Homo sapiens: one gene and its partners. The protein of the gene in region 1 purifies or fractionates together with the protein of each later gene. This does not show direct contact. Each region holds a gene or a part of one and is shown in the gene's direction. Other genes may lie near its edges. The genes, in order: ITM2B, UBR1 and HS6ST1.

Region 1 (3,652 bases):
CATTAAGATGAGCCCTGGAGCTACCACTTAATCATTCCTGGGTTGATTTTGATGAGAGACACAACTCCTTTGGTCTTTGTGTCTTCATTTATTAAAATGATAATCATTAAGGTTTTTCTAGTCCTGAGCCTTCTGTTATTCTGTCTGGAGATAAGATATTTAACTGTCTTTTTCATATTTTAGGACCCAGATGATGTGGTACCAGTTGGCCAAAGAAGAGCCTGGTGTTGGTGCATGTGCTTTGGACTAGCATTTATGCTTGCAGGTGTTATTCTAGGAGGAGCATACTTGTACAAATATTTTGCACTTCAAGTAAGTGGAAAAATTATTTTGTGTCTCTGATTTTTTTTTTTTTTTGCCTCTCCCGATGTGCATTACAAAATTGTTTACAACTTGCGCTAAGCTTGTACTTTTTATCTGTGACCTTCAGCCAGAGTGGTAGTTCTATTTTAAAGCTGTGTTTAAACATCTCTCCATGATATGTTTGCTGAGCCCATCACACACAGTCACTAAAAGCAGAGTAACTTGAAATGTTGGTGACTAAGGGATTTATTTAGGTCATTGGGTGATTTTACTAACCTTTATTTTCCTACTATAATTAAGGGTTGAGAGGAATAGTATTATCAATTGCCAGTTGAATAAATACATCAGCCACAAATGTTTTCATGTTGATAGGCCATAACTTGATAGTCAGCTTGGACTCCCCTATGGTCCTGCTGTACCCTTGGGCCCAGAATACAGTAAGACCATGTCTCTGCTTCTTTTCCAGTCATGGTTTCACTAAAGAACTGGGTGACTTCAGCAGTGATATTGAAATAACATAGGATGAAAGTTGTTTATAACTTTGAGTGTTTAATAGTAATCCCAGTGGGTTAAGACAAAGGTCTTCCTTGTGATTGATTATAATTTACAATCTATTTTGTAATATATTTCTCTTGGCAATAATACACAATTTTTTTTTTTAGGAGTTTTGAAGGGGAAATTACTTTCAAGGTTTTATGACTACTTCAGCTGTTTCAAAATTTGGAGAAACAGTTGACAACTAGACTTATTAAAATAATTTAACTAATTTTGAAACATTCTCAATTTCATGCTCATTTTCTGTGTTGTTCAAGATAATCAATCACATGTTGATAGACATTACCAAAATACTAGTCATCTTTTTAAATACAGTTTTATTTACAAGAAATACATATAGTATAGAAAAAATCATCGCAATTCCATTTTCCAGAGATAACATTTGGTGCATTAACTTTTTTTTTTTTCTTGAGACAGAGTTTCTCTCTTGTTGCCCAGACTGGAGTCCAATGGCGCGATCTCGGCTCACTGCACCCTCTGTCTCCCGGGTTCAGGCAATTCTCCTGCCTCAGCCTCCCAAGTAGCTGAGATTACAGGCACCTGCCACCACTCCTGGCTAATTTTTGTACTTTTAGTAGAGACAGGGTTTCATCATGTTGGCCAGGCTGGTCTCAAACTCCTGACCTCAGGCGATCCACCCACCTTGGCCTCCCAAAGTGCTAGGATTACAGGCGTGACACACCATGCCTGGCCCTGTGCATTCACATTTTGTATACCCTTAGTCTTTATTGTGTGTGTAGTGTGTGTAGTGTGTGTGTGTGTGTGTGTGTGTGCGCGCGCGTGTGCGTGCGCGCACGTGTACATGTACTGTGTGTTTGGCTTTTTTTGAGATGGGGTCTCACTCTGTCATCCAGGCTGGAGTGCGGTGGTGCAATCACAGCTCACTGTAGCCTCAACCTCTTGGGCTCAGGCAATCCTCCCGCCTCAACCTCCCCAGGAGTAGCTAGGACTACAGGTGCGTGGCACCATACCCAGCTAATTTTTTTATTTTTTGTGGAGACAGGGTCTCACCATGTTGCCCAGGCTGGTCTTGAACTCCTGGGCTCAAGCAGTCCATCTGTCTCAGGCCTCCTCCCCACAAAGTATTAGGATTACAGGCATGAGTTACTGCACCCGACCTTATGTACTGTTTTTTCTTTTTGTAAAAGTGAGACAGTAGCATAAAGATTTGCTGTAATCTAATATTTTCCACTGAATTGTGATATAAAGGGAAAAGTAGAACTACGTATATGCATATAGAAATTTCAGAAAAATTATCCCTTTTTTGGCTAATAAGAAAAAAGTCATTTAATTAGTAGACCATATCAAAACTTTTTAATATATTCTTTCAGAAAAACTTGACTAGTTTTGGAATGTATTCTTCTATAAAAACTGCTTACAGGTAGAGTAGGTCTGTTGTTTCTTTATATTTATTTGTTACTGGATAGCTAATTATTTTTATGTTCTATTTTCACCTACCAGGAAAAGTAAAGGGAAAACCAGCTGCCTTTCTTCTGAAGCTGTTCTTTTACAGTGCTTCAAAACCTGATCTTAAAGAATATGTTAACTCTGTAATTAAACTGTCTGACTTGTCATCTAAAAGCAAGAGTTTGCAAGCAAAATGCTATTTAGATAGAGGTGGCAGCTTAAGTAATGCTTATTTAAAAACCTGTCTCATGCTGAATTGCTGAAATGAGTCTTTAAACTCTCTATAGCCAGATGACGTGTACTACTGTGGAATAAAGTACATCAAAGATGATGTCATCTTAAATGAGCCCTCTGCAGATGCCCCAGCTGCTCTCTACCAGACAATTGAAGAAAATATTAAAATCTTTGAAGAAGAAGAAGTTGAATTTATCAGTGTGCCTGTCCCAGAGTTTGCAGATAGTGATCCTGCCAACATTGTTCATGACTTTAACAAGGTGAGCCAAGTGTCCAGAATTGTAGAAAGAATGCAGGTTCTGTAGTTTATGCTTTTTGTAGTTTTAATTTCAATATTTGCTAATTTATTATATTTAGAGTTTAGTTTAATAAACTGTCAGCATTTGGTGGGCTCTGCTATGTCTGAAGCAGACCCTGCTGATGCAGCCTTCTCATATCTTATCTCTCCTTCCCCTTGCCTTACCTACTCTTAAAGCCCACCTCATGACTGTTCCTCCTTTGCTGGCAAACTAATATTTTTTATATGTTCCCACATTTTCTTAGATAAGAGGTAATTTATGTTCCTGTTTCTTGGTAGCATTTTCAAAATCAATAATTTTGTTAATCTGTTTTTAAGTTCTCATTCTATATTTTTCCCCAGCTTTTGAGCATTTTTATGTAATGCAGAAAAGTTGAATACCCAAAATCCTCCACTTTGTTCCAAATATTGCCATATTTGCTTCATCTCTTTTTCTGTCATTTGACATAAGTACTTATGCTATTATCTCTCAAGAATGAGTTGTCCTCCTACGTAACCACATAATTATCACATCTAAGAAAATTAACATGATCTTATAGGACAGTAGTCCCCCCTTATCCGTGGGGGATACATGCCAAGACCCCCAGTGGATGTCTGAAACTGCATATAGTACCAAACCCTGTATATACTATGTTTTTTCCTGTTAGTGTACATATATACATATGTTAAAATTTAATTTACAAATTAGCCACAGTAATAGATTAACGACAATAATAATAAAACAGTTATAACAAAATACTATAATAAAAGTTATGTGAAGGTGGTTTCTCAAAATATTTTATTATGCTGTACTCACCTAGGTATTTGTGGACTGTAGTTAACTAAAGGTAACTGAAACTCGAGAAGCACAACCTC
Region 2 (3,473 bases), on another chromosome or scaffold:
TTTGTCCTTGCAATAGTTTACTGAGAATGATGATTTCCAATTTCATCCATGTCCCTACAAAGGACATGAACTCATCCTTTTTTATGGCTGCATAGTATTCCATGGTGTATATGTGCCACATTTTCTTAATCCAGTCTATCGTTGTTGGACATTTGGGTTGGTTCCAAGTCTTTGCTATTGTGAATAGTCCCGCAATAAACATACGTGTGCATGTGTCTTTATAGCAGCATGATTTATAGTCCTTTGGTTATATACCCAGTAATGGGATGGCTGGGTCAAATGGTATTTCTAGTTCTAGATCCTTGAGGAATCGCCACACTGACTTCCACAATGGTTGAACTAGTTTACAGTCCCACCAACAGTGTAAAAGTGTTCCTATTTCTCCACATCCTCTCCAGCACCTGTTTCCTGACTTTTTAATGATTGCCATTCTAACTAGTGTGAGGTGGTATCTCATTGTGGTTTTGATTTGCATTTCTCTGATGGCCAGTGATGGTGAGTATTTTTTCATGTGTTTTTTGGCTGCATAAATGTCTTCTTTTGAGAAGTGTCTGTTCATGTCCTTTGCCCACTTTTTGATGGGGTTGTTTGTTTGTTTCTTGTAAATTTGTTTGAGTTCATTGTGGATTCTGGATATTAGCTCTTTGTCAGATGAGTAGGTTGCGAAAATTTTCTCCCATTTTGTAGGTTGCCTGTTCACTCTGATGGTAGTTTCTTTTGATGTGCAGAAGCTCTTTAGTTTAATTAGATCCTATTTGTCAATTTTGGCTTTTGTTGCCATTACTTTTGGGGTTTTAGACATGAAGTCCTTGCCCATGCCTATGTCCTGAATGGTAATGCCTAGGTTTTCTTCTAGGGTTTTTATGGTTTTAGGTCTAACGTTTAAGTCTTTAATCCATCTTGAATTAATTTTTGTATAAGGTGTAAGGAAGGGGTCCAGTTTCAGCTTTCTACATATGGCTAGCCAGTTTTCCCAGCACCATTTATTAAATAGGGAATCCTTTCCCCATTGCTTGTTTTTCTCAGGTTTGTCAAAGATCAGATGTAGATATGCAGCATTATTTCTGAGGGCTCTGTTCTGTTCCATTGATCTATATCTCTGTTTTGGTACCAGTACCATGCTGTTTTGGTTACTGTAGCCTTGTAGTATGGTTTGAAGTCAGGTAGCGTGATGCCTCCAGCTTTGTTCTTTTGGCTTAGGATTGACTTGGCAATGCAGGCTCTTTTTTGGTTCCATATGAACTTTAAAGTAGTTTTTTCCAATTCTGTGAAGAAAGTCATTGGTAGCTTGATGGGGATGGCATTGAATCTATAAATTACCTTGGGCAGTATGGCCATTTTCACGATACTGATTCTTCCTACCCATGAGCGTGGAATGTTCTTCCATTTGTTTGTATCCTCTTTTATTTCATTGAGCAGTGGTTTGTAGTTCTCCTTGAAGAGGTCCTAAACGTCCCTTGTAAGTTGGATTCCTAAGTATTTTATTCTCTTTGAAGCAATTGTGAATGGAAGTTCACTCATGATTTGGCTCTCTGTTTGTCTGTTATTGGTGTATAAGAATGCTGGTGATTTTTGTACATTGATTTTGTATCCTGAGACTTTGCTGAAGTTGCTTATCAGCTTAAGGAGATTTTGGGCTGAGACAATGGGGTTTTCTAGATATACAATCATGTCATCTGCAAACAGGGACAATTTGACTTCCTCTTTTCCTAATTGAATACCCTTTATTTCCTTCTCCTGCCTAATTGCCCTGGCCAGAACTTCCAACACTATGTTGAATAGGAGTGGTGAGAGAGGGCATCCCTGTCTTGTAGCACATAATTTTCAACAACTTCTCCAAAATTTGAAGGTAGTGTTTCCCCAAAATTTTTAAAGACACCAGCCATCTTAATGTTTCAGTGTTCTATTGTTTGTAATCAACCTTTCTTCAGAACTACTTAAAAGGATTGACACTGATAGTATAAGTTTGTAGTGTCCAGTGATGAAGTTTGTTTTAGAGATATTGTTTCCATTGCAATACTTGAAACTTTTTTTTTCTTTGTTTTTTGAGACAGTCTCTCACTCTGTCACCCAGGCTGGATCTCGGCTCACTGCAACGTCTACCTCCAGGGTTCAAGCGATTCTCCTGCCTCAGCCTCCCAAGTAGCTGGGACTACAGACATGCACCACCACACCCGGCTAATTTTTTTTGTATTTTTAGTAGTGACGGGGTTTTACTGTGTTGGCCAGACTGGTCTCGAACTCCTGACCTCAGTTGATCTGCCCACCTTGGACTCCCAAAGTGCTGGGATTACAGGCATGAGCCACTGCACCCAACTGAGACTTTTTATTAGCCAGCTATATCAGCCTTCTTTCCTTCTGAGCATTAACAAAATATTTAGAATCCTGAACTTTTCTGTATCCTTCCCTGGTGGTAGGAACTGGGGTCCTACTGATGACTTATGAAAATGAGGAGACTGACAGTGATCTCAAAAGTACATATAGATAAAGATTAGACCTCCTTACAATAAACTCTTTTTGGTTCACTGAAATTTTGTTCCTTTGAAATATTGCTCAGAAAGAATACACTTATTAGATGGGGCTTGGGACCTTGGATCACACAGAGCTTTCTTTTTATTGGGATGACATTTGACCTGTCTTTAGGTTTAGGGAGAAAAGCAGAGTGGTGAAAGTAGTTAATGACTGAGAATCTTAGTTGTTCCACAAGGGTACAAAGCAGAGTTTTAACATTAATTTGGCAGTTTAAAAATCCCCAACCAGGCGGCCGCGGTGGTTCACGCCTGTAATCCCAGCACTTTGGGAGGCCGAGGCGGGCGGATCACGAGGTCAGGAGTTCGAGACTAGCCTGGCCAACATTGTGAAACCCCGTCTCTACTAAAAATACAAAAACAATTAGCCAGGTATCGTGGCGGGCACCTGTAATCCCAGCTACTCTGGAGGCTGAGGCAGGAGAATTGCTTGAAACTGGAAGGCAGAGGTTGCCCTGAGCCGTGATCGTACCACGGCACTCCAGCCTGGGCAAAAAGAGCGAAACTCCATCTCCAAAAAACAAAAACAAAAACAAAAAAAATCCCCAACCAGCTGAGAGACTTGAATGTCTCAAGGAATTAGGATCTCACAGTTCTCCGTTACTGGCAACAGCCAGACTTAAGTCATTTTGGATTAGCTGTTATACAGTGTTAAAAACTGTGCAACTCTAGAATTGAAGTATAATTATTTTATTAAATTATTTGCTAATAACCAGCCAGTTTTTTGTATCGTAAGGACAGTTACAACCAAATATCTCTGAGTAGCAAAATATAATTTTAGGGCCTAGTGTTATACGTCAGGCCTAACCTCTACTGTGCAAAGATCATAAATTGAAGCTAGATAACAATATGAAGCCAAAAAGCTATTCAAGCTAACCACCAAAAAAGAATAGTGCTGCTTCAAGTTATAAACCTCAGTGACCATTTAAGTGAGGTCCCATAATG
Region 3 (3,652 bases), on another chromosome or scaffold:
GTTGGGAGGGGCTTCCAGGGCCGTCAGGAGGCCCCCTCTGCCACCCACTCTGGAAGTGGGTTGTGCTACCGGGCAGGTGACAGCACCCCACCCTCCGAGTCCCTCTTCTCCGCCTCCACTCCCTTCAGTTCTGTTGCAGGCACTAGGTAGATTGCTTTTTTAATGAGCTTCATCAGGAGGCCAAGGTAATCTTGCCTTTGTGCTCGCAGGGCCAAGCTGCACTGAGGTCCACCTGCTGAGCGCTGCCCCGCCACCTGAGTCTTCTGGCCCAGGCTGGAGCTGGGCTAAGCTGCTCTGCTGTGGCGGTTGGGATGCACTTCCCCCATCTGCCCAGGGACCCAGCAACTCTCTATCAGGGGCAGTGCCCATCCCTGCTGGGGTGCCTCATGTTAAGTGGGCTTGGTGTCAGGAGACTCAGGTGTCACCCTGGCCCTCCTGCGATGTCTTCACTCTGGCTCTGCACTGCCATCTCCGTGTTCTCTGGGGACTGAGACCCTCTTTTCCTTCTATCTCTGCCTGCCTCCCTGCCCAAGGCTGGCTCCTGGAACCTCTCCACCAAGCCCCTCCCATTCCCTGCTGCGGTTTGGGAGGGTCTCAGTGGGCCTGTGGTGCGCGTAAGAGAGGTGGGGCTCTTCCCGGCTGCCAGCCTCCCCATTGCACAGTATCAGCCTGGGCTGCTCTGAGCTGGGCATCCATGGAGATGGACAGGTTTTTGATGTCTTCCTGGAATATGGTTTGGAACTTCTAGTGGCTGTTAGTGCTTGGCTGCCTTGGTAGAAAGGAACAAGAGTGAGCAGAGCATTGGCGGGTCCCTGTTTAGTCCTGTGTTCACCATGGGGGCTGCCTCATCTGCCGACATCAGCCAGGGTGCTTGTAAGACTCCACTGGAAGGACGTTTGCTGGCTGGCCTTAAAGAGGTGTGGCCATCCCCAGGCAGCAGCCAAATGGCCAGCCATTCCAGGGACCACTCGGTTAGAATGTCTCAGCACCCCACACTCCGCTGTCACTCAGAGGGTCCAGATGGTGCTCCAGAGCCAGAACCTCCCTCCTTCCTCTTCCCGTCTGCCTGAAGGCAACGCAAGAACAGGCATGGTCAAGGTCTTGCCCGGGCCACCCTGGAAATGTCCCTGAAATCATGTGGGCTTCATTTGGGGCCACGGAGGGCATCTGGAGCCCAAGTGTGGCATCTGGGCCACCTTGGCCGGGAACCCGGGACCAGCTCACATCCTCTCTGCACCAGGGCCTCTCTGGAGCCCTTAGTGGGCTCGCAGCCTCTGTGACGTTGCCCTGCAGAGACCAGTGCTTCCTTGCTGGAGGGATGGCGCAGGAGCCCGCAGCCTCGCCTTTGACCTGCCCTCCGTGATCCTGAAGCCTTCTCAGACTCCAGAAATCCGCCTGGTGCTGGACCTGTGTGCCGTCCACCTGGTGTGCCTGCTCTCCTCTCCCACTTTTCTGCCTGCTCCTCCCCTCCCTTCAGTCTGCTCAGATGCCCCTTCCTCCAGGAAATCTTCCCTGGCTTTCTGTTCCTAGGCTCCCCTGTTGCCTTAGGCGCCTCGACTGCTGTCCCATCTGACACCGTGCCACCTTGGCACTGCCCTCATGCTGGCACCATGGGAATTTTTTTTTCCTGGACTCTGCAGGATCTGGGCTCTGTCCCTGCCCTTTCCCTGTGACTCAGGTTCACGGAGTCAGTCTTGAGTGTCATGGTGTTCCCTGAGAACCTGGGGACTCCTTGGTGGGGCAGACCAGGTAGGGGTGGGCTTGGATGAGAGCCTTCGTTTCTGTGGCATGCGACAGTTTCCACCTTACCTTCATAATCGCTTTCTTCTTTGAGATCAAGGGAGAAACCCTCATCTGCTGTGATGGGGACAGATGTTACCCAGAGCATGTGACTGGGGCCAATGAACAGGACCTGGGGACCAGGCTGGGGGTGTCACTGTGCCTACATTGCCTAGAGAGGCCTTTGGTTAAGATGAGAAGGGAATCTGTGGTCAAGATGCTCCTAGATTTTCACTAAAAATAGATAAAAAATCCTTTTTTTTTTTTTTTAAGCAAACACATGATAAGGCAAACTTACGAATGGTTGGGTGACAGGATCGTTTTAGATGGTCCTCTAGCTTGGGGGATCATTTCTGCCATGCTGCTCTGGTGGTCTTCAAGCCACAGCTTCCTGTCCTAGGCACTTCACGCATAAAACTGGGGCCTGGGGACTCCTGCTCCTGGATCAGAGAGCCCAGTCCCAGAGAGTGCAGTGCCCACCTTGGTCCCTAGGGCCAGGGAATCCAGGTTTCTTTCTCAGCAGGAGTTCTGGCTGCCACACGGGGGAGTGGCCACCTTGGGTCTGGCATCCTCCAGGGCCCAGGAGGGAGGAGGAGAAGGGGCCTGGTCTTGTCGTCCTTCGGGGAGTTGGAGGCTTTTGCTCTCACACCCCGCTTTGTTGTGGTTATAATGATTGTTTGGTAGATGAGTGGGAGGAAAGTATGAGGCAGAGGGAGAAAAGGAAAATCATCCATTCCCCATGCATGGTTTTTCCACTGTAATTGAAGCCATCATATAAATTTCACCATAAATGTTGTCTGTTGTCATTAAAAACTTAATATTTGAGTGGCTGCAGCTGCTCCGCTCTGAGTGTGCCACCGCTGGTTGGCAGTGGGTGAGTGCGCAGGTTGCTCATTCTGTACTCTGTGGGGACTGCTGCAGGACTGCTCCTTGTGTGTAAATGTTCTGCATAGCTCTGATTTCCTCTGGAGATTCCTAGGAGTGGAATTTCTGAGTTGAATAGTCTGAATGTCTTTACTGCTCTTGGTACAAATGTTACCTTCCTCTTCAGAACACCCACTCCTGGTATGCTCCCACCTGTGGTCTGTGAGCACCCATGTCAGTGGCACACTCATTGGTACTGAATAGCATGTGAATTTTTTTTTTGAGATGGAGTCTCACTCTGTCCGGTGCAGTCTGGACAATGATGGCACGATCTCAGCTCACTGCAACCTCTGCCTACCAGTTTCAAGCGATTGTCCGACCTCAGCCTCCCACGTAGCTGGGATTACAGGTGCCCGTCACTACACTTGGCTAATTTTTTTTATATTTTTAGTAAAGACGGGGTTTCACCATGTTGGCCAGGCTAGTCTCGAACTCGGGACCTCAGGTGATCTGCCCGACTTCGCCTGCCAAAGTGCTGGGATGACAGGTGTGAGCCACCGCACCAGCCTATTGTGAATTTTTTTTTAAATTTATTCTCTTAAATCACCGAAAAGTGCTAATCTTATGGTTTTTATTGCAAAGCCTTGCCCAATGAGTACACCCTTGGGGTGGCCCATCTATGTAGGGCACTTGGGAGCAGCCATGCCCAGTCACCCACATGTCGCCACCTGCTCACAGGTGGCTGAGTTTCACCCCTGCTGAGAGAGGGGTGCAGCTCCCAGGGGCCTGGGGTGCACCCTCTCTGGGTGCCCATCACCATCCCATGTGGCATTTTGCGGGACTGAATTCCGCCTCTATGAGGAACAGGCGTGACAAGCCATGGGGGCATGTAGAGAGGCTGGCAGGGTGACTCTTGTCCCCTGCACACTTAGCAGGCACTTGGAATGGGTCATCTTGTTTGGACCCAACACTCCCCCAAGACAAGTATATGAAGAGCAGCCCCATTTTC

The links.
Region 2: the proteins of ITM2B (region 1) and UBR1 purify together in Homo sapiens (affinity purification with mass spectrometry; 3 studies listed by BioGRID and IntAct, with this or other methods). This does not show direct contact.
Region 3: the proteins of ITM2B (region 1) and HS6ST1 purify together in Homo sapiens (affinity purification with mass spectrometry; 2 studies listed by BioGRID and IntAct, with this or other methods). This does not show direct contact.

Annotation. Positions count from the first base shown.
Region 1 is NC_000013.11:48,253,625-48,257,276, forward strand, and holds part of ITM2B (integral membrane protein 2B), read left to right. Parts: intron 1-183; coding exon 184-312; intron 313-2,552; coding exon 2,553-2,759; intron 2,760-3,652. UniProt on the Homo sapiens protein: Plays a regulatory role in the processing of the amyloid-beta A4 precursor protein (APP) and acts as an inhibitor of the amyloid-beta peptide aggregation and fibrils deposition. Plays a role in the induction of neurite outgrowth.
Region 2 is NC_000015.10:42,945,711-42,949,183, reverse strand, and holds part of UBR1 (E3 ubiquitin-protein ligase UBR1), read left to right. Parts: intron 1-3,473. UniProt on the Homo sapiens protein: E3 ubiquitin-protein ligase which is a component of the N-end rule pathway. Recognizes and binds proteins bearing specific N-terminal residues that are destabilizing according to the N-end rule, leading to their ubiquitination and subsequent degradation.
Region 3 is NC_000002.12:128,312,338-128,315,989, reverse strand, and holds part of HS6ST1 (heparan-sulfate 6-O-sulfotransferase 1), read left to right. Parts: intron 1-3,652. UniProt on the Homo sapiens protein: 6-O-sulfation enzyme which catalyzes the transfer of sulfate from 3'-phosphoadenosine 5'-phosphosulfate (PAPS) to position 6 of the N-sulfoglucosamine residue (GlcNS) of heparan sulfate.